7 linked regions of the Homo sapiens genome follow. The protein of the gene in region 6 interacts with the protein of the main gene of each other region in a biochemical or structural test. Each region holds a gene or a part of one and is shown on either strand. Other genes may lie near its edges.

Region 1 (3,500 bases), on a different chromosome or scaffold from region 6:
CCAGGTGGCTCTTGCGGGCAGCCCCAACCCATACCTGCTTGCTTGGCGTCCTGGGCTGAGATCCGGTCACCAGTGAGGACCATCTCCATCGCCAGCGACTTCCCAACAGCACGGGTGAGTCTCTGGGTGCCGCCCGCACCTGCAGGGAGGGGCTGGTCATGGCTGGCACTGTGATGAGTGAACCCAAGAAGACATCACAGCTGTGCAGCCAGCAAATTCCAAGGGGCTTAAGATAGGCCCTGAGACTAGGTCCAGGGGTCAGAGGCCAGGCAGCACAAGAGCCCGGGAACATCAGGGGCAGCAGCCCCTTTTCAAGCTCAGGCCCCACATCTGGTGCTCCCCTGTGGGCAAAGGATTACCTAGGTGCCGAGGCAAGAGACTGAAGGCACAAACTGTTTCGGTATAATAAAGAAAATAGTTAGAATAACAATAGTTATAATACAAATTAGATATAGAGATGATCATGGACATTATCAATCATTAGTATAAACATTATTAATCATTAGCTCTTAATATTACTCTTTGTTGTATTACTAATATAACCAAGAAATAACTGGCGGGTATAGGGTCAGGTGCTGAAGGCACATTGTGAGAAGAGACCTAGAAGGCAAGAGGTGAGCCTTCTGTCACACCTGCATAAGGGCCGCTTGAGGGCTCCTTGGTCAAGCAGTAACGCCAGTGTCTGGGAAGGCAACCATTACTTAGCAGACCATGAAAGGGAGTCTCCTTTCCTTGGAGGAGTCAGGGAACACTGCTCCACCAGCTTCTTGTGAGAGGCTGGATATTCTCCAGGCCTGCCCGCAGTCATCCGGAGGCCTAACCCCCTCCCTGTGGTGCTTCAACGATCACACTCCTTGTCCACTTTCATGCTCCTCCCGTACTCCTGGTTCCTCTTTGAAGTTCGTAGCAGATAGTGGAAGAAGAAAGAGTGAAAGTCTTAAAGTCTTTGATCTTTCTTGTAAGTGCATAGAAGAAAATGCTGACATATGCTGCCTTCCCTCTCTGCTTCGGCTACCTAAGAGGGAAGGGCCCCCTGTCCCATGATCACGTGACTTGCTTCACCTTGTCAATCACTTAGAGGATTCACCGTCCTCACCCTGCCCCCTCGTCCTGTATGCAATAAATATCAGTGCGCCCAGCCATTCGGGGCCACTACCGGTCTCCGCCTCTTGATGGTATTGGTCCCCCAGGCCCAGCTGTTTTCTCTTTATCTCTTTGTCTTGTGTCTTTATTTCTTACAATCTCTCGTCTCCGCACATGGGGAGAACACCTGCTAAGCCCCGTAGGGCTGGACACTACACTCCCCCAACACCCTGACATTAGATCAAGGTGATGACTCTGTAGGGCCCTCCCCAGCCTCTGTGGTCAACATATTAGAAGCTTATAGGCCTCCCTGACCCCAGGCACTGGTCCCTTATAGTAGCAGCTGTTCTAGGGATCAGACCCGAAACAAATGCACCGAGCTCACAGCTCCAGGCCTCAGAATCGGCCTCGTCCAACTCAGAGGGCAGCGAAGGGCACCCTGAGTGCAGCTGCTCCCCTCAGGGTCTCAGCTCCCTCCTGGCTGCTCGGCCTGGGCCCACCCTTCCTACCAGGAGAACCCTGGGGTTAGAGGGTGTTGCTTTTTGCCAAGAGCCCAGGCCCTTCTCACGGGCCTGGGTGGGGGGTCTGACTCCCCACCCTGAACCCAGGCCATGTGACCTCCATGGCCAGTGAGATGGCAGTGTGCAGAGCTCCCAGTGCCACCCAGGGTCACCATGTTCCCTCTCTGCCATGGACACGAATCACAAGCAAGAACTGTCATGGTTAGAAGCCAGCGTTACCCAGGACCAGCCTCTCCCAACACCATCAGATGTGGGCACAGTCACAGTCCCGGGACTCTAAGGCCCCCCCCAAGCTCTGTCACAACCACTCTAGCCTCCGTGGCTGTCCACAGAGGGACCACTGACCAGCCATGGGGCTGTCCATCCAGGGCCTCTGGTCAGATATGAGCTGTGGGCCCTGAGACACAGGCAGATTTTGAGTAATTACCTAAGGCATCTATGCCAGAGACAGTGTCACTCTTTACCTGGGATGGTTCCTATTAAGATCTCCGGCTGTGCAAACTGGGCCTTCTCACCGGCATAGATGATATCACACATCATGGCAAGCTCACAGCCCCCGCCAAACTGTAAAACATTCGGCATCAGGAGAGTCTTACCAGGGGAACCCAGTCAGAAATCACTCTGCTTGCTTATTCAAATTTTCCATTTAAAAGAAACAGTGTTGGGGGTATGACAAAGACTAACATGGTGGCACCAAACTAGATAATTGTTATGATAAGTTAACTACAGATGGTTGATGCTGTTTACCAGGGGCTGGCAAACATCCTGTAAAGGACCATGAGGGTCTTACAGGCTCTGCTGCCACGACTCAACTCTGCTGCTGTGGCCGAAATGCAGCCACAGAGACTAGGTGCACAGGTGGGTGTGGCTGTGCCGGGAAAACTCCATCCGCAGACCCCTGGCTTACACGGCAGGGAGTGTCATGAAATGATCACAATCCGCAGACCCCTGGTTTACACGGCAGGGAGCGTCATGAAATGATCACAATCCGCAGACCCCTGGCTTACACGGCAGGGAGCGTCATGAAATGATCACAATCCGCAGACCCCTGGCTTACACGGCAGGGAGCGTCATGAAATGATCACATTGCCTTCCCTATAGGCCAAGATCAGTCTCAGCACTTCAAATAGTCCCAGGACACAGAGCTTTCAAGGGGAGCAAAAGAAGCTAGTTTATAGATGTAGCCAAAGCCAACACCTCTCTTCCCCCACCCTGGAAGAGAGGCTTGCTGGGGAGAAGCTGTCAGGTGAACAGCCACGAAAAAAGCAGATGCCAGGAGGTGTCCTCTCCACACAGTTCCTGGCTCTTTAGCACCATGAGGCAGGAAAGGAGGCTGCTGGCCTGGGAACTAAAGGCCTCTTCAAAATAAAAATCTGTTATGCTGTGTATGCACAGCACGGTTCCTTCAACCACGAGAGGAGGAGACTCTTGGCAGCAACACTCACGGCATAGCCATTGACAGCAGCGATGACTGGCTTCTTGACCTGGGTGAGGTGGTCCCAGTGCTTCAAGAACTTGCTGGAGTAACAGTCCTGGAAACTCAGGTTCTGCATTTCCTTGATATCAGCTCCAGCTAGCAGGAGTGGAAAGGAGGTTCCAGTTACCAGAGAGCAGAGAGCCCACCCATCCTATATCTCTCAGACCAACAAGGAACTTCAGAGCACACCAGACACAGGCAGTGGGGTTGCTGGGCACGGCTGACACCAGGCCACGTGGACAGCTGTAGGGACGCTGTAATGCCAGCTAGAACAGAAGTCACGCAGAGGGGCCCTGAGGCAGGCAGCAGGTGCAAGGGAGGCGCCCACAGAGGCTAGGCATATTTGTCAGGGCATAAGCCCTTGACACACACAAAGCCTGACTGCCAAGGACCTAAACCCCTTTGAAGAAGCTGTTTTG
Region 2 (2,172 bases), on a different chromosome or scaffold from region 6:
AAAAGAGGAAGAGATTAGGGGAACTGTTCAACCCATACTACGACCCTCTCCAGTGGAAGAGCAGCCATTTTGAAAGAAGAGACAACATGAATGACAATTTTCTCGAGGGTGAGGAGGAAAATGAGCTGACCTTGAACGAGAAGAATTTCTTCCCAGAATACAACTATGACTGGTGGGAGAAAAAGCCCTTCTCTGAGGATGTGAACTGGGGGTATGAGAAGAGAAACCTCGCCAGGGTCCCCAAGCTGGACCTGAAAAGGCAATATGACAGGGTGGCCCAACTGGACCAGCTCCTTCACTACAGGAAGAAGTCAGCTGAGTTTCCAGACTTCTATGATTCTGAGGAGCCGGTGAGCACCCACCAGGAGGCAGAAAATGAAAAGGACAGGGCTGACCAGACAGTCCTGACAGAGGACGAGGTATGGTCTAGGGCTTCTGTTTAAAAGTACTTACTCTGGTCAATGTTAGCACATTATGTTCAAGACTATCCGATATTCACGGGGAGAAATTGGTGGGAATTAATCACTATGAAAATGGTGCTCTAGTAATGGAGTGGAGGCCACCTTGGGGGTCGGTTTCCACCTACCTCTAGCCATCGTCCACATCCTTGTCCACCTCACTCGGTTGCATTGCTTCTCAACCTTGTCTGCACACTGGGGTCACCTGGAGAGCGTGAAAAATTACTGTGTTAGAGATTCTGTCTACTTAGTTCCTAGGGTGCTGCCTGATCATCAGAATATTTTAAAGCTTCCAGATGATTGCAGCGTTCAGCCAACGTTAACAACTGCTGTTCTGGTATCTTCCCCTTGGTCCTCTTATTGTTCATCACTCTCTCCCTGAGGCAGGGAGAATAGGTGATAGAGAAGTTTACTTGCTTGCCTATTTAGTTTGCTATCTTTATTATTTCATGCCCTACTGCCATCAGAAATTTGTATCTGGGAGAGGTAACACTACTGGAGCTGAACCTACCCAAACAATGTTTTTTTTCCTAATATTGATTATGTAGGTTGGTGCTTCTCAAAGTTGAATGTACATTAGGATCATGAGGGATTCCTAGCCCCCAGAGTTCCTCATTTAGTAGGTCCCAAGTGAGACCCCAATATCTGCATTTCTGACAAGTTCCTGGCTGATGCCACTGGTCAGGGGACCACACTTTGAGAGTTACTGAGGTAGGTTGACTAATGCAGCTTCTAACATGCCTAAAATTCCCCTTTGCACTCATGCTCCATCAAACTACAGCAAAAGAAATTGGTTCGGGACCTCATGCCTCCACTTTTCTGTATTTTCCAGAAAAAAGAACTCGAAAACTTGGCTGCAATGGATTTGGAACTACAGAAGATAGCTGAGAAATTCAGCCAAAGGGGCTGACTGTCATTGGAGCGGTGGGCACTGTTAAGAAGCAGCCATCACATGATCTGTTTTTCACCACTTCACTGAAAGACACCATTTATCTACCCAAGGGCAGAAAGTAGAACTTACTATTCATTAAATGTTTGACACAATTGGAATTGTCTTTAATTTCTGTCAGAATGCTATTGAAAATGTGAATTGCATGACTTGTAGCATATTCTTTTCTGCAAAATAGACATATTAACATGCTTATGACAATGACTGTGCTACTGTCTTTGGAAAAATGTTTGTCTCAGTTGGAAATAATAAAAGATTCACCTGAGACCAAAAGCTTCATTGTTCTCAGCTTCTTTTGGGCAAAGAGAGAGGTGTGTGACTTTTCAAATCTATTCTTTGAAGTAAATTGCAAAAGATGGCCCTAGGATTTGTTGGGTTTTGGATGCATAATAGAATAAAAAAGCAAACCTTTTGAAGTAATGTGCAGGATATAAAGAGAAATAGATTAGAAAAAGACATCTACTCCCCCATGCTGAGAGAGATTACAGGGGCTTGAAGAACCTGTTTCAAAAACAATCATAAGATATTACTTTAAAAATTCCTTTATCTAAAGAGCTCTACAAGTAGCCAGCCAAAGTTCATTTTTCAGGGCTGAGAAGAAAGCTTGGATAATGGGAAGAATTCCGGGGTGGGAGTGAAAACATCTGGATTGTCAAGACAGATCCCTGGCCCCTCAGATCTTGTCTGATTTCTACTCCTTAAGAAGATAGAGGCAGCTGGGTGCGGTGGCTTACAGTTGTAATCCTAGCACTTTGGGAGGCCCAG
Region 3 (3,500 bases), on a different chromosome or scaffold from region 6:
GGGTGACACTGTGAGGCTCCGTCTCAAAAATAAAATACAAAAATTAGCCAGGCATGGTGGCACACACCTGTAATCCTAGCTACTCAGGAGGCTGAGGCAGGAGAATCGCTTGAACCCGGGAGACGGAGGTTGCAGTGAGCTGAGATCGCGCCACTGCACTCCAGCCTGGGCGACAGAGCAAGACTCTAACTCAGAAAAAAATTTTTTTAAAAATTTGGTTTTGAAGGACTTCTTTCAATTATTTGCTGGGATTTTGAGTCAGTTTTCCCACCAAGAAGCTGCAGCATAGACAATGCAGACAATGCAAGAACCAAAGATTAGGACTAAAATAAAAAACACTTACAGAAATACAATATAGTAGAAAGAGCCCTTTTCTCCACAGCAACTCATCCCTTCCCTTAATCCTCAAAAGAAAGAAAAGTTTGAAGAAGCTATAAACAAGCATAAAAGACTCAAACTAGGACTGATGAGAGAGGATGCCCCATTCAGAGTAAGGAATTATGAGTAACAAATTAACACAACTGGGCAACGATCACCAACAGCTACTAACATCACAGGGAACCAAATATTATGCACCTACTGATCCAAGTACCATCTATAAAGTATTCCCCTCATCCCCTGCAAAAGAAGCAAGAGAAAGAATATATATTATAGAAACAATCTGATCAAGCTTCTAAATCTAATACCAATTAACTAGAAACCCAGGGGTCAGAGAAAAACGTTTACCACCACCACCACAGAAATCCAAAGGAATGTAACTGCTAAATCCACACTGGGAAAACTTCTTTTGTAACTAATAATCTGCTAGGGAAAAGAAATGGAGGGGGAACCTACAGATTACAAAACAATGCAGAGACCTTATTTGGCTCTTGATCTGACACATTTATGAGATAAGAGGGAAATCTGAACACTGACTATCATATTACATTAAGGAACTCTTCCTTTTTTTTTTTAGTGTGGTAAGTTTTTCGGTTTTCTTTCCTTCAACAGTGAAGCTGACTGGGAAACTGGAGTGCTAAAAAGTTAGAGTACAGAAAGGGAACTCTAATATTAATACAGCTGAATGGATCTGTCCATAATGCACTGAATTTGGCCTACCCGGAACTTAAATATAAATTGTGAGATTGCAACCACCAGAGATCAGCTTTGCTTGCTTGCCAGCCAACTTTTTCTCCACTGATATAAACTCTATAAATAGGTCAAAGGTGATAATGGCTGCTCAAATCACTTCATATTGCAGATATTACTACTTCTGGCATGTACCTGGACCTGCACCAGGGCTGTGAATAAACTAGCATCAAGTAAGAAGCCAAAGAAGTTATCAAATGCAAAAAAAAAAAAAAAAAAAAAGCACTGTGGCTAATGACTCTCTAAAGTACTCAAAAGCATCATCAGTGTAAATCAAGAATAATTTAAAACAGAGGTTCTTTTAATTTTTAAAAATAATTTTTTAATAGAGACAGGGTTTCACTTTGTTGCCCCGGCTGGTCTAAAACTCCTGGGCTCAAGCTACCCTCCCAACTCTGCCTCCCAAGGTGCTGAGATTACAGGTGTGAGCTACCATGCCTGGCCCTAAAACAAAGGTTCTAAATTTTCTCCAAGATTTCTGCCCTGGTCATTTTCTATCTCCTTCAGAAGACAATTCACATAAAGATGGATAACCACATGCCAGGAACTGAGGTCCCAAGATAAAAGCTGCCAAAATTCTCTCCACTATACACACCTTCAGGCTCACTGCAAAGTGCTTAGTTGATTTCAGCAGAGAAAAATAGTAAGAAACCCTTGACACTAAACTGTTGATTTAAGAACAAGCTATGATTCTATGCTAGGTTAAAACTAAGGCAGACAGGATACTGCTTAAAATTTTAACCACATGAAGTTTTTGTTCTTAATACAGAAAGAAAAACAATCCTGTTTTCCTTAAATTTTAGTCCACACCCAACTTCCCTATCCCCGACAATACCTTTCTCTAATTATAAGGCACCTAACAAAATGCAGACTCCAGACATTATTGTAAAGGTCATTTTTTTAAACTAGTCAACTCAGTAAAAAAATAACTTCTACTGGTCACTTTGGTCAGTATCTTGTTTCTCTAATGCTAATTATGCTAATAAAAACTTAATTTCAGCCAGGCACAGTGGCTCACATCTGTAATCCCAGCACTATGAGAGGCTGAAATGGGAGGATCACTTGGGCCCAGGAGTTGGAGACCAGCCTGGCCAACATAGTAAGACCCCATCTCAATCAATCAATCAATCAATCAAAATAAACTTAATTTCTAGACTACCCAAGCACAATTCTAGTTTTTTGTTTTTTTTTGAGACGGAGTCTCGCTCTGTCGCCCAGGCTGGAGTGCAGTGGCGCGATCTTGGCTCACTGCAAGCTCCTCCTCCTGGGTTCATGCCATTCTCCTGCCTCAAACCTCCCGAGTAGCTGGGACTACAGGTGCCCGCCACCACGTCTGGCTAATTTTTTGTATTTTTAGTAGAGACGGGGTTTCACCACGTTAGCCAGGATGGTCTCGATCTCCTGACCTCATGATCCGCCGCCTCAGCCTCCCAAAGTGCTGGGATTACAGGCATAAGCCACCATGCCTGGCACAATTCTAGGTTATATACATTCTTAGGAATGGCTGCTCTAAGTTTTAACAGATTTAATGTTGTTTCTCTCTGAACAACAATCAGAACTTAATACATGAACTTGAATTACAAGCAAATGTATTTTGTAAATGAACTGGCATTACAAAAAAACGACATTTCCCCCCCCACCTCCCGAGAGGGAGTCTTGCTCTGTTGCCCAGAGCTGGAGTGCAATGGCATGATCCCTGCTCACTGCAACTTTCACCTCCCAGATTCAAGCAATTCTCCTGCCTCAGCCTCCCAAGTAGCTGGGATTACAGGCGTGCACCACCACACCCATCTGATTTTTGTATTTTTAGTAGAGACACGGTTTCATCATGTTGGCTAGGCTGGTTTCGAACTCCTGATCTTGTGATCCACCTGCCTCGGCTTCCCAAAGTGCTGGGATTACAGGCGTGAGTTACCATGCCCAGCCCAAAAAACGACATTTAAGTTTCCAGCCTTTTAAAGCTTAGAGATACCAAGAAAAATGCTATTTTCTAATACCTTATTTAAAATGAATTTATAAGGGAAAACACTAGTTCCATACTACAGTTGTTTTGTTATGCAGTACTTTTTTCCCTTATAATCTACTTTCTCTTCTCCACATTTTAGAGCAGGAAGGAAACTCAGAAATCATCTGGTTCACTAGGTTGAGTTCTGTGGGCAGAGACTGCTTGCTTGTTTTGTTTTTATTGTTGTTTTTTTTTTTGAGACAGAGTTTCCCTCTTGTTGCCCAGGCTGGAGTGCAATGGCACAATCTTGGCTCACCACAGCTGCCTCCCAGGTTCAAGAGATTCTCCTGCCTCAGCCTCCTGGGTAGCTGGGATTACAGGCATGCGCCACCATGCCCAACTAATTTTGTATTTTTAGTAGAGACAG
Region 4 (3,098 bases), on a different chromosome or scaffold from region 6:
GAGAGCTTCCAAATCTTTTATAATATATATCCCAGCATCCAGATACAAATGGTAATATTCACGGCACACACAGAAGCAAACAGTAGGCTACTTCTGGCCCTGAGGTATCTTGAAGGGTTGAGGGGGATCAATATCTTGGCTCATCTGTACTGTGACAGATTTGGAAGATCTAGTCTAACCCATTTTTTCCCTCCCCTCCCCCTACCACCTTCAGAGAAGCTGCTGCTGGCTTGGACTGCGGTGGGGCTGCCCCTCCAGGATGTGTCTGTGGCTGCCTGCAATTTCTGTCGCCGTCCTGTACACTTTGAGCTCATGAGTGAGTGGGAACGTTCCTACTTCGGGAACATGGGGCCCCAGTATGTCACCACCTATGCCTGAGAAGCCAGCTGCCTAGGATTCACACCCCACCTGCGCTTCACTTGGGTCCAGGCCTACTCCTGTCTTCTGCTTTGTTGTGTGCCTCTAGCTGAATTGAGCCTAAAAATAAAGCACAAACCACAGCATGTGAAGCCTTTTATTGGACAGGGAACAGACAAGTGCATTCTGACTCCCTCAGACAAGTGGCAGATCTATGAGGTAACCATAGGTCACTTGTTGGTCACCATTCCATTTTACCAACAGGGAAACAGAATGAGAAAGAGGAAGGAAATGCCCAAAAACTACACAGTGAGTTGCAAAGAGCTAGGATACTTGGCAGATTTATTTGAGATGGCTCTTCTCCAATGGTTTCAATAAAAATCCAGGGATTGACGCTTCACTGGTAATCCGGGCCCTGGAAATCTGGGCCCAGGGTAGCCCCTGAAGCCAGGAAATGAGTCAGCCCTAACCAAATTCCCTAGAAAGGAGTGGTTCCCCAAAACCAAAGAGGTATTTTCCATAAGGGGATATGGATGTCTTCCTCAATCCATTATCCTCTCTCCCTCCCACGGCATCCCACAGAACAGGATTTACCAGTCCCATTCTTTTTCTTTTCTTTTTTTTTTTTTGGAGACTGAATTTCACTCTTGTTGCCCAGGCTGGAGTGCAATGCATGATCTCAGCCCACTGCAACCTCCGCCTCCCAGGTACAAGCTATTCTCCTGTCTCAGCCTCCTAAGTAGCTTGGATTACAGGCACGCGCCACCACGCCCAGTTAATTTTTTTGTATTTAGTAGAGACGGGGTCTCACCATGTTAGGCTGGTTGCGAACTCCTGACCTCAGGTGATCCACCCATCTCAGCCTCCCAAAGTGCTGGGATTACAGGCGTGCACCACTGTGCCTGGTCTACCAGTCCCATTTTCAAAGGTGAGAAGAGGCTTGGCTAGAGCAAGCACTGTGTTCAAAGCAATGCTCCCACTTTCCAGGTCACAGTATACAGGAAACATTTCCATGGCACACTTAGGGGTACTAATGATACTACTTGCTAAGGAGGCAATCGTCCCTGAAACTTGTGTGGTCCCAGGCCCTGCCTGGCAACTCTGAGGGCTGAGGACCGTTTCTTTCAACCCTGTAACCCACTGTGGCAGCTGTGGGACGCACTAGCTGGAAAGCTCTGGTTTAAGGCTACACAGCCCACCTTCCTTGCTGATTTCACCTTAGCCGTACAGGAAATTCCTACAACTGAGCAGAGAACCCTTTATGGTGAGCACTGCTGCTCACGCCTCACTATTCCCTCCTCCCCCCTCCCTCCTCCCCTTTCTCTGGGAATTACATCATTGGGCTACAGCCAGCCGGCAAACCAAGTATTGAGATAGCTTCTCTGACTCAACTTTATGGAGTACCTCCACAATGTCCAAAGTGCAACCCTGAAACAAATACACAGACTTTATTTATGCACAAATACACTTTCCAGCAAAGACAGAAGTGATTTAAAATCACACAACTTCCTGGGGCAGCTAGTGTCCGTGTACTTCGGACAGGAAGGTGGAAAGTGGTGTAAGGGGCTGGGTCACAGGATTAAGGCACAAGAAGCTCACCAACAAGGAGCTAGGTAGGAAGGAAAGCGAGGAAGAGAGGGCTTAAAAGAGGAAGAGAAGGGTAGGAGACTTTGAGGGAGAAGCAGGAGGCAGCTCAGGGAAGGGGAGCTGGCCTCAGATCATGTGCAGGGGTGACCATGCCAGATGTCCCCAGGCCTCCATTGGTTCAGCTGGGCCTGCTCCAGAGGAAGAAGTTGCACCGGGAGGAGGGGTCAGTGGGAGGACCCCGGGGCCTGGCACACATGTAGAAGCGGCGGCCCAAGTTGGGTCCTGGCTTCTTCACAGTACGCATCACACATGGCTCCCTGTGGCCCCCACAGAGGGGTGTGCGCAAGGGCCCCGCCAGCACAGACTTCCAGAATGAGGTCCGTAACTCCTTCTCATCTTTGGCTTCTGAAGTCTTGGCCTGCCCCTTCACCACTTTGGCCACTGCCTTCTCTTCTGGAGTCTTCGGGGTCATGAGGGCGCTCATCAGTGGTAGGCTAGGCAGCTCTATGTCAGGAGAGGCTTGGGGACAGCTAGGGGAGGGCTGAAAGTAGCTCTTCAGGTTTTTCTGGCCTCTGCTAGAGCCAACCTGACTGGGCTGAGGCCTGGTTGAGCGCACTTGGGCTTTGTTTTGGCATGTCTGTACCCGGGTTTGATTGTTGTGCTGCAGCGTCGACTGCTCCAACACAGGACTTTGTTCGAGAGGAACTAGGAAGCGAAGGATCTTGAGCTGGGTGCCTGCAAACTCAGGGAGGAAGCGGGTGCACAGAGGTGGGCACTGTTTTGCAGGCACAGAGGACACACTCAAGACTGCACCCACAGGGCAGTGGTCAGAGCCCATCACCTCAGGCAGCAGGAAAGAGGCCTGAAAGGTGTCTATGACCAGGGTCCTGTCCCCCAGCACATAGTCAAGCCGGGAGCCATAGTTGAGATGGCGGGCGCCAGTGACTGCTGACCAGCAGGTGAAGGCCCCCTCCTGCTTTGGTTGGAAGCAGCGGTAGCTATCGATGAAGGGCCCTACATGAGAGGCAGACTGGCACCCCAAGTTACTGAGCAAGCTGTCCATCCACTTGCGCCCTGGGTCCTCTTCAAAGCATTCCTAGGTGAGGAGGAAAGGGGGTTGGAAGAGAGAGAGACAGAACTAGATACCTAGAACT
Region 5 (3,500 bases), on a different chromosome or scaffold from region 6:
GAGGACGCCACCCCAGGAGCAAGAGGCTACATCCTGGGTCAGCCTGCAGGGGCAGCACAGGACACCCTGAGCCAGGCCCAGGGACCGCAGGCGGCTCAAGATCCAAGTATTCCCTCCCCAGCTGCAACACACTGCAACGCATCTTGGCTCGCTTTCCCGCCGCCACCGCCTTCCCGCCCCTCCCCTAGCCACCTCCAAAGTTGGTTCTGGGATTTCCATGACTAATCCGAGATTTTCCTTGAAATGGAGCCTGAAAGGATCGCAGCCTCATTCACACATGGCTGTGGGTCTGTGTGGCGGGGAGGTGAGGGGGAGGGAAGGGGGCATTCAAGGCTGGTAGGACTTTGTGGAAAGAGGTCCCCCACCCCCACAGAGGCTTAGCAAGGGCCTCTCTGTGCAGTCAGCTCCGGCCAAGCCTCCTCGAGCCACAGAGAACGTGAACATGAGGATTGCGGTGAGGGCATGTGTGGCACGTTATTTTTCTGCAGACATCTGGCTCAAGAGGATTTAAAACTTAATTTGTATCTAGACTCAGCTGTAGAGGGAAGTGAGGCAGGAAGGCTGAGGGAGCCAGCCTGCGATGAAAATGTCACTGGTTCACCAAGAGTCAGCTGCATTACATGTGCTGAGGGGCTCCCTCACTCCTGGGAGGCCACAGGGCCTGTCTCAGAAAAGCTGGGGAGGGAAGCGGGGCCTGAGTGGGACTCACACTTTCCCATGTGTTTCAGCTTGTCCCTGAATAAGGCATCTTCAGACACAGCGGGGTTGGCGTCGCCAGTTCCTGGAAGGAGACACCTGCTGAAGGCCGGCCACCGTGGCCAGCCATGGCCGCTGTCCCAGCCCTACCCACCCATCTGAGGACAAATGCAAAGAAAGAGCAGGCTTCTTCCCTGGCCAGAAGGGAGTTTAAAGCAAGGAGGATGTGGAGTTCCAGGAGCTCCTCTTTCCCCTTGTGGACTTTGTTTCCTCCTCTGTAAAAATGGGGAGGGTTCAGCGGTCTACTGTGTGTGCAGACAGCCAGCTCGTGTGTGCTCCCAACTGTCCACGCCTCTGACCAACTCCATGTTTCATGACATCACCTTGGTAGCTTGGGAGTATTTCCACCATGGAGGTCACCAAGCACTACATATCAGGCTCCCGCTGCACCCAGAGTTGGCTGTGAAACATTCACCAGCACACCAGGGGCCTCCTGCACCCCGACATTCATGTGACAGTCAAATGAGGTGCTGGCTCAGAGCCGGCATTCACCTGTAGCAAGTCCCTTGTCCTTCCTGCCAGGTAAGCCCATCCATTGCTCCCTCCCAGCCACAGGGTTTCTGGCTATTAGACAATGAGTAGGAATAGAATGGGACTAGTCCTGGAGTCAGAACCCCACCGGCCACCCAGAGTCTCCCGGGCTCGCTCAGCATCCACTTGGGTTTTTTGCTGGTTTCTGAAGCCCCTGCTCTCTGTCCTGCAACTTGGTTAATCCCCAGTCACCTTGCCTGCTAAGTCCCCTTTGAGTCATTCTGATCCATCTCAGCAGCCCCGGTATCTCTAGTTAATTCAGGATCAAGGACAAGAGGCTCCTGCTTAAAACTCCCAGCTGCACATCTGCTGAGCCCTAAGCTCCCAGCCTGCTGCTTATGAGTCAGTTCCACAGGATTTTCTCCCTTCAAGCTGGGATCAGCTCAGCTCCCCATCCCTCTGCTCCTCCACCCCCAACTCCACTGCATGATGCAAGGTCTATTCCAGGCAAGAGCCCTTCTCCGAGGTGGGCAGCTTGTGTACATGTGGGGCAGGGGGCACTGACTGATGAGGGGCCACTGTTCGCACACAGGCACCAGGTCATCGTTCCCAGCTGTGGCTCAACCCAGTAGTCTGCGCATCCCAGGAGCACTGCAGCCCCCTCACCCCTATCCAACCCTCTTTCAGCCATCAGAGCTTCTGAGCAGAAGGGCCTGGCCCTCTTTACAGGCAATTCTTACTTCCCACCACCTTGTACACAAAGCTAGAAATTCCTCTTCCTCCAACACCTAGGGCAAGGCCCAACAGATGGCAGATATTCTCCAGCTATGTCATGAATGAATGAGTAAACTCCCCAGATTAATCCTGCCCTCCTTTTTTCCCATGCATTTGCTAAAATCAGTAAGTCCTCAGCTTTGCTAGTTTGTTCTACCTGTTTTCTGGGCATTTCTCCTTACAAGACCATAAGCTTCCCCAGGACACAGACCAAGACTTATGAGTCTCTGAGCCCCACCACGGGGCATTTTGGGGTCCTTTTCTTCTTTTTTTTTTTTTTGGAGACAGGGTCTCACTCTGTCACTCAAGCTGGAGTGCAGTGGCATAATCACAGCTCACTGCAGCCTCAACCTCCTGGGCTCAAGTGATCCTCCCACCTCAGCCTCCTGAGTAGCTGGGACTAGAAGCACAGGCCAATATGCCCAGCTAATTTTTAGTACTTTTTTGGTAGAGATAGGGGGGTCTCATTTTGTTGCCCAGGCTGGTCTTGAACTCTTGGGCTGAAGCAATCCACTCTCCTCGGCCTCTCAAAGTGTTGGGATTATAGGCGTGAGCCACCGCACCTGGCCATGTGTCATTGACTAGCCTACACTCGAGGCATAGGTTGAGAGTTCAGCCAGCCTATGTTACTTGAACACAACTGTGGGCTCTGAAGCCCAGCAGTGGCTGGATTGGAAAGACCCCAGAGCTGCTAAATGGACTGGATATGGAGATGGGGGCAGAAGCAGCCCCGCCAGCCTGCTGAGGAGGCCCAGGCCCCCTCCCACAATCTGTTTTTTCACCCTCCTCTCAAACTCCAAATATGCAAAGCAAAGTTGGGTGTGAGCTCCCCACTATGCCTCTAGGTTTTCTTCCCCAGAAGGCAAAGTTACCTGGGACAGGAGAGGAAAAGCCAAAGTCGTTTCCGACAGCCACGCTGCTGGATTTAGATTTCTGGGATTCGTATTTCAATCGATCTGGAAAAGGACCACATTCACAGGTCAGGGAGGTTAGCTCCTGGGCTCCCAGGGGCAGGCTGGGCTGGGACACGGTAGTTTGCTAGAGGCTAAGTCCCCAGAATCACACATGAGCACACACGGGCACCCAAAATATGAGTGCACACATCTACCAGCTCTCAAAGAACCAGCAGTAAAAGAAACTACCGCCTGACAGCCATCTCAAATGTCAGAATTAAAAGGACTCAGAGAGACTGTAGAGTCCAAACCCCCTCATTTAAAAAGAAAGGCACGGCCAGGGATGGTGGCTCATGCCTGTAATTCCAGCACACTGGAAGGCTAAGGCAGGCAGATCACCTGAGGTCAGGAGTTCGAGACCAGCCTGGCCAACATGGTGAAACCCCGTCTCTACTAAAAATACAAAAATCAGCCAGGTGCGGTGGCGTGCGCCTATAATCCCAGCTACTTGAAAAACTGAGGCAGGAGAAACACTTGAACCTGGGAGGCGGAGGTTGCAGTGAGCCGAGATTGAGCCACTGCACTTCAGCCTGGGTGACAAGAGCG
Region 6 (3,500 bases):
TGCAGTGATCTATGATTGCACCATTGCACTCCAGCCTGGGTGACAGAGTGAGACCCTATCTCAAAAACAAAAACAAAACCAAAAAAAAAAAAAAAACAAGAAAAAAAAAGTACTAAGGATCTGGTATAGCCATTCTTGCACTTAATAATCTTGGTACAACCTCTAAAACTATTTTTTATAGTTTATTTTATTTTGCCTTATTTAGACAATTGGCATGTCTATGTTCTTCATAATTTAGAAATTATATGTATTTATATATATAAATTATATATATTATATATTATGTATAAATTAAATTATATATATATATAATATATATATATTTGAAATGGATTCTTGCTCTGTCATCCAGGCTAGAGTGCAGTGGCACAATCTTGGCTCACTGCACCCTCTGCCTCCTGGGTTCAAGCGATTCTCCTTCCTCAGCCTCCCGAGTAGCTGAGATTACAGGCGCCCATCACCATGCCTGGCTAATTTTTGTATTTTTAGTAGAGACTGGGTTTCACCATCTTGGCCACATTGGTCTCAAACTGCCGGCTGAAATGTTGTATTTTTTGTATGTCTTTCTGGTATGATTTTTGGAGAAAGGTGTATCCTAAGAATACGGCTTGCTTTTGTTTCTGGGTAAGCATTTTAGGGTATCATTTTGTTGTATAACCATTGTTTACAAGTGAGATAAGCATCTATTCCACTAAGATTGAAGAGATTCATGTTTGACTGAGTATGCTCTATTAACATTCTTTAAAACATGTGAATATATGTCTTTCTTGTTTTCAGGTGGGTTGGTCACTTCTGTGCAAATTAATAGAAGTCTGTCCAGGTACAATGCAAAGCTTAATGGGACCCCAGGATGTTGGAAATGATTGGGAAGTCCTTGGTGTTCACCAGTAAGTATGATAGATATGTAAAACAAATGGCCTTGAGTATTTATTTGTACACATGACAACCTTCCCTTGATACACTGTGTTTGCAATCCAAGGCTACTCCTGTGGAATTCTTTAAAATACAGATATTTTTCCTTGAGTCAATGATTTACATTTATAGAGAGCTTTAAACTCAGAAGTTTGATTTAGAAAGCAAACATTTAAGGTAACATGTCAGAAGTTATTATTTTAATAATATAATCATATAATTATAAAACTGGTTAAGTTGTAGATTTTTGATGAGTACTTTTGAATTCAAACCATGAAGAGATTTTGGCTTTTAATAATAGAATCGATACAAACCACTAGTTCTTAAAAAAATGGGAACTGAGAAAAGTTAGTTCTGTAAGTAGTAATTTGAAAGTTGATGTTCTACTGTCTTTAAATAGTACATTTATATATATATTCCTATATATACAGTAAGTTTAAACTATGGCTTTCAGAAAGAGTTAAGAAAGAGGAAATTAACTTTCAGCACATCTGTAGCCAAATCTTGATAGTAATTTTACCAGCTATGTTTTTGCAGTTTGCAGCATAATGGCTTCTTAGATGAGACTACTTCCTTAGCCATCATTAATTAAGAAAATATTTTCTCAAGAAGAATGTGTTTCCAGGAAAATACATTTTGGATAGCTTTGTTTCTTGACAGTTAAAAAATATCTTCTAAGCTACTGAGGAGGCTGAGGAAGGAGAATCACTTGAACCTGGGAGGCGGAGGTTGCAGTGAGCGGAGGTTGCAGTGAGCCGAGATTGCACCACTGCACTCCAGCCTGGGTGACAGAGCGACACTCTGTCTCAAAAACAAACAAACAAACAAACCTTTTGTCATTAACTTTAAATCTTTTTTATACCTAATATGACTTTTCTTTATCACAGAAAAGGAAATTGTGAATATTTTTTGGCTTCCAATGGTATATGGTTTATGAAAATTTAATTTATGAAAAATTTTCAGGTGTTTGTATTGCTGATCAGTGTCAAGTAGTGCTATAAATTTAGACAAATTAGAGCTATGTGTTTGTCCATAAGTGAACATGTCTGTGCTTATACATTTTCCCCTCTTTGACAAATGTGTTGCTCTTCTTGTTTTCAGTACATAAAGGGTGTGTTTTGGAAAGAGCATATTTACAATTAATTGGAGTTCTCGTCTTCAATCTAATCTCTGTAATTCTATGTATCAGTTCTAAAGTATACAGCATTTGATGAGGAATTACTCAAAATATACCAGTAATTAGGAATTGTAACTTTAAATGTCCCTTGGTTTGGGTGATAATTTCCAGGAAGTCCAAAGATGAGCCAGTCTATAACCTCAGGGAGTGTTTGGGAAACTCATCTAGTCATATTCCTGTACAAACCAACTGTTCAAATTAAATTACATAAAAGTTTATGTAGGAAATTTCATTCACTCACTCACTTACTCATTCACTCACTTTGTTCATCCAGTCATTCATCTTCTATTCATTGAATGTTTTTGAAGCCTGTCCTCTGGGTCAGAAACCATGCAGTTGTGAAGAAGATAGACACACTGCTGTCTCCAGTGGAGTGTATTAGATCACTCCCAGCAAAAATTGATTGTAAAACAGATTTCTCTTTTTTCAAGGCCTTTTCCCTCCAAAGACTTACCAGTACTGAAGAAAAATTTCTTCCGTGGTAATAAAGTCAGGAATTGTGGGAATGGTATAGGGAGAGGTAGGGGCAGGGTGATTAGGAGGAAGGCTGGCAGAGAATCGAAGACTGGCTTCATTCAGGTCCTCCAATTGCCAAATGGAGATTATGCAACGTTTCTTGAATACATACAAAACTCTAGATGTGGCCAGCTCAGTCTTCTTCCAATAATGTAAAGCCAAACAATGCTTTGCAGGAATAGACTAGAGATTATATTTTGGGATTAATAACATAGGGATTAAAATCTTATCTTGAACTAACTAAACATTATTGATATGCTAAATTCACTTTTTTTTTTTTTTTTTTTTTTTTTTTTTAGACAGAGTCTTTCTCTGTTGCCAGGCTGGCGTGCAGTGGCGTGATCTCGGCTCACTGTAACCTCTGTGTCCCGGGTTCAAGTGATTCTCCTGCCTCAGCCTCTCGAGTAGCTGGGACTGCAGGAGTACGCCACCACGCCCAGCTAATTTTTGTATTTTTAGTAGAGACAGGGTTTCATCATGTTGGCCAGGATGGTCTTGATCTATTGACCTCATGATCCCCCCGCCTCGGCGTCCCAAAGTGCTGAGATTACAGGCGTGAGCAACGGCCACCGGCCCACTACTTTTTAATATATCATTAATTTCTCTTTTAAAAACAGTAGCAATCAATAATTTAAATATTCAAATGAATTCTTAATTTATATACACAAACTAACATCTTTATTATATCTCTATATTTTAATATATCAACATGTCTAAGATAATTTATAAATTTACATCATATATAAAAATGGGTTTGCTCTCGATGTATATAAGGCTTCATGATATTTTGAATATGGAGTTGGGTGAAAATAGTGAATCTGAATATTTGAATTTGAATATTTATTGGAAAATAAGTAGTGCTTTTAACTTTTTAAATGAGACACATAATAGTCCC
Region 7 (2,962 bases), on a different chromosome or scaffold from region 6:
TAGACACACCTGAGCCAGGTACACGGACCATGGACAGGAGACCCCGCTTGGTCCTCCCGGCCACCCTTCCGGAAGACACCCTCGTTTGCACCACCGCCACACAGGGACACACACGAGCAATTTCCTTTTGTCTTATGACAGCTCCTAAAAGGGACCCCACAGATATCTTCAAGAAAGTTTCGCTTACTTGATCCCACAAAACGGTGTCCTGAGCGCCTTCCAGAATGCAGGTCATTCCTCCAGGCATGGGTGAGGACCTGGGGGCTGTGCCTACCAGCGTGACCTGTTACTTCAGCTTTTGTTCCTAAGACTTCCAGTGTTCTTTCCTTGTCTTTTAAAAAAAAATCTTCAAATTTTCTCAAACTCTAGACTTTAAAGGAAACATGTTATCTTCAGTATCAAAGACAGACAGAATTTTCAAATCTAAAACAGCCCAAAGAAACTGTAAAGCTAACAAGCACACAGAAAACACATCAAAGAAGACGAAGCGACACATTCTGTGACATAAGAAAAATAATCAGTTTAATAATTACAACAGTGTAGCATCAACATTGTAGTAGTCAACACTAGGACATTGTCTGTGACATTTAAATTAGGAGTTTCTCCACACTTGTCAACAGGCGCCCTGGGTGTCCCAGAGAAGTGAAGAAATGATTGGCATTAAGGAGTCCACACAACCAGGGCAGGCATTCAAGGTCCCAGACGCCCAGCGCATGTGGACAAGCACAGACGCCACTGAGTGTGAAGGAACGAGCTTCTGATGCTACATTCCAACATCGCTGAAAACTGAAAGTGCTTCACATCTACAGGATAAGAAATGGCTTCATCTCCTCATCCATACAAGGTGAGAGCAAAGGAGTAACCCTCGGGCAAATCGTGGCCCCTTTAAACGTTTATATCAAGTTCCCACCCCCTTGGGAGGTCACACGGTGAAACAGACACAGTTATATACAACAGGGCAGGTTTTTAAAAAGAGTTGCTCTCAGACGCATTTTTCCTGCTCCCTAAAAAGCCGAGGAAGATACTGGATCCACAGAAAGAAAAGGCAATGCCGTAACATGAGGCCCTCATGGCCGCACCGTCCAGGGGAAGGGCTGTTAAAAACACAAGTATTCTTGTGAAATACTTCGATCTGAGCATTAAGGCAGGTCTGCAGGAGATCCGTCCTGGGGACTCGGACAGCAACGCTACCGGCTCCGAGAGGACAGTTAATGTCGCCTCCCGGCAGAGGGGCGGAGAGATCAGACAAGAGTTGTTCCTGAGTTAAAACCTGCTACAACAGCAAACTCCAATAAACTCAAGTTGAATGGTTTCCCACTGCAATGTCTTACGCATCACCAAAAAATAACTTGTAAAACTCAAGCTTACCAAAAAAGAAAGTGTTGATCTTTGCTTGTGCCCGCATGAGTGAATGATCTGCTAAGTTGAGGAAGCTGGCAATTCTAGTGAAAAGTCCAGGTGAGGCCAGGTTCTGCAGCATGGGGCAGGTCCACGCTGAGCCCAGGCAGACAACGTGACCAGTCACGGAAGGAAGCCAAAGGGGCTTGCTGGGCACCAGAGACTGTAATTAGCAAGGGCAAGGAAGAACCGTAAACAGCAACACAACACTCTCCCAAGGTGCCCAGCTCAAAGGCATCAGTACACAAAGGATTCAGGTGCAGTTAAAGGGCAATTTGGCCAATAGACAGAAAATCAGAGAGTCAAATCTGATGCGCAATGAGTTGTTCTGAGACCAGTAATCCACGGTGCTGCAATTTGGGTTTTTAAAGATAGAACACTTGTTCTACGGAAAAGTGTATCTCACTTTAAAACCAACCTTTTCACAGGAAAGGAAACCAAAAGCAAAGTCCCTGTGGTCACCCTTATTTATTGCTGAAGCAGAACGAAAACCTGCTCCACGGGCCGGGCTTCCTGCCCAGGACCGCACAGGCTTTCCAGAGCCAGCCTGGGCCCAGCGAGCCGCGGTGAGGACAGGCTTCGTCTCCTCTGCACTGGAACACAGTGGGGGAAACGTTCCCTGCTTATGCCTATGTTACTTAGTGGAACCTAAGGTGTATATTGCTTTATTCTTGCTGAAGGAGGGGATTTTACTTTCGGTGAGCACTGAAGCCTGCTGGCTACGGCCAATGGTGGAGGAGACCTCGGGATGAGGCTGGCCTGATGACAAAACTCCACCCATCAGTATCAGCCTGCAGCATGGCCTCCATCTGTTTTCATCAGCTGCAGTGACTTATAATAAATAATACATTCTATTTACAGGTTCTAGTAAGATCTCTCTTTGAGGGAAGACAAAACAGTGTATTTTGTTGTTACTGAACTAGCCTATACAGAACCGTCTGTGTCCTCCCAAAACGCAGCAAACTCATCTGAGAATCACAGTACTCAGACAGCGGACAAGAGCAAACACCTCTAGGTGGATGCGGCAGTGCCGTATGGGCCTTCCTTGAGGTCAAGACTGAGTCTGTCAGCCAGCAAGTTGCCCTCAGAAACCCGCAGGTCTGGGACTGTAATGCTGCTTTAAGAGAAGACTTCTGAATGGGACTGAAGTGTATCTCTGCAGGTATAAATAAGGTTATTTAGAAATACCGACATGGGGGGTGCTGCCACAGCACGGTGGAGGCCCTGGTGCTGCGGAACGAACCAGGCATCCACCAGGCTTCTGCTTCCGGTGGATGCGGGCATGGGACTTCTTATTCACGTAGCTGGAAAGGACATTCTAGCATGGGGATTAGCCCGGACAGAACCACCACAGGTATGCATTCAAAATGGGATATTTACAAGAAACATGTATATATAATATTTATATATTCAATTCAAAGTCTGGAAAAACAAGACTTTTAGTCAGTCACTGAACTTATTGCAGAATGAGGTAACTGAGATGTTCACAGAGTGGATTGATGTAGCTCAGGTCCTCAGAGTCAATCCCTCCTGTCTGGATTCATCAGTCATGGTTTGATCGTCT

Evidence for each region.
Region 1: the proteins of LRRK2 (region 6) and ECHS1 interact on a protein array, tested with the Homo sapiens proteins (2 studies listed by BioGRID and IntAct, with this or other methods).
Region 2: the proteins of LRRK2 (region 6) and CHGB interact on a protein array, tested with the Homo sapiens proteins (3 studies listed by BioGRID and IntAct, with this or other methods).
Region 3: the proteins of LRRK2 (region 6) and ARK2N form a complex in vitro, tested with the Homo sapiens proteins (one large-scale study listed by BioGRID and IntAct).
Region 4: the proteins of LRRK2 (region 6) and APEX2 form a complex in vitro, tested with the Homo sapiens proteins (one large-scale study listed by BioGRID and IntAct).
Region 5: the proteins of LRRK2 (region 6) and CUEDC1 form a complex in vitro, tested with the Homo sapiens proteins (2 studies listed by BioGRID and IntAct, with this or other methods).
Region 7: of the proteins of LRRK2 (region 6) and ARHGEF7, one has a biochemical effect on the other in vitro, tested with the Homo sapiens proteins (2 studies listed by BioGRID and IntAct).

The regions. Positions count from the first base shown.
Region 1 is NC_000010.11:133,366,855-133,370,354, forward strand, and holds part of ECHS1 (enoyl-CoA hydratase, mitochondrial), read right to left. Parts: intron 3,178-3,500; coding exon 3,050-3,177; intron 2,169-3,049; coding exon 2,069-2,168; intron 140-2,068; coding exon 35-139; intron 1-34. UniProt on the Homo sapiens protein: Converts unsaturated trans-2-enoyl-CoA species ((2E)-enoyl-CoA) to the corresponding (3S)-3hydroxyacyl-CoA species through addition of a water molecule to the double bond.
Region 2 is NC_000020.11:5,923,682-5,925,853, forward strand, and holds the end of CHGB (secretogranin-1 precursor), read left to right. Parts: coding exon 1-419; intron 420-1,290; coding exon 1,291-1,368; 3' UTR 1,369-1,672; downstream 1,673-2,172. UniProt on the Homo sapiens protein: Secretogranin-1 is a neuroendocrine secretory granule protein, which may be the precursor for other biologically active peptides.
Region 3 is NC_000018.10:46,180,534-46,184,033, reverse strand, and holds part of ARK2N (protein ARK2N), read right to left. Parts: intron 1-3,500. UniProt on the Homo sapiens protein: AMPK substrate important for exercise capacity and skeletal muscle function.
Region 4 is NC_000023.11:55,006,460-55,009,557, reverse strand, and holds the end of APEX2 (DNA-(apurinic or apyrimidinic site) endonuclease 2), read right to left. Parts: intron 3,041-3,098; coding exon 2,123-3,040; 3' UTR 501-2,122; downstream 1-500. Other genes in the region: ALAS2 (5-aminolevulinate synthase, erythroid-specific, mitochondrial isoform a precursor), read left to right, coding at 215-378. UniProt on the Homo sapiens protein: Functions as a weak apurinic/apyrimidinic (AP) endodeoxyribonuclease in the DNA base excision repair (BER) pathway of DNA lesions induced by oxidative and alkylating agents.
Region 5 is NC_000017.11:57,868,413-57,871,912, forward strand, and holds part of CUEDC1 (CUE domain-containing protein 1), read right to left. Parts: intron 2,958-3,500; coding exon 2,874-2,957; intron 782-2,873; coding exon 710-781; intron 1-709.
Region 6 is NC_000012.12:40,231,497-40,234,996, forward strand, and holds part of LRRK2 (leucine-rich repeat serine/threonine-protein kinase 2), read left to right. Parts: intron 1-777; coding exon 778-887; intron 888-3,500. UniProt on the Homo sapiens protein: Serine/threonine-protein kinase which phosphorylates a broad range of proteins involved in multiple processes such as neuronal plasticity, innate immunity, autophagy, and vesicle trafficking.
Region 7 is NC_000013.11:111,303,271-111,306,232, reverse strand, and holds the end of ARHGEF7 (rho guanine nucleotide exchange factor 7), read right to left. Parts: 3' UTR 501-2,962; downstream 1-500. UniProt on the Homo sapiens protein: Acts as a RAC1 guanine nucleotide exchange factor (GEF) and can induce membrane ruffling. Functions in cell migration, attachment and cell spreading. Promotes targeting of RAC1 to focal adhesions. May function as a positive regulator of apoptosis.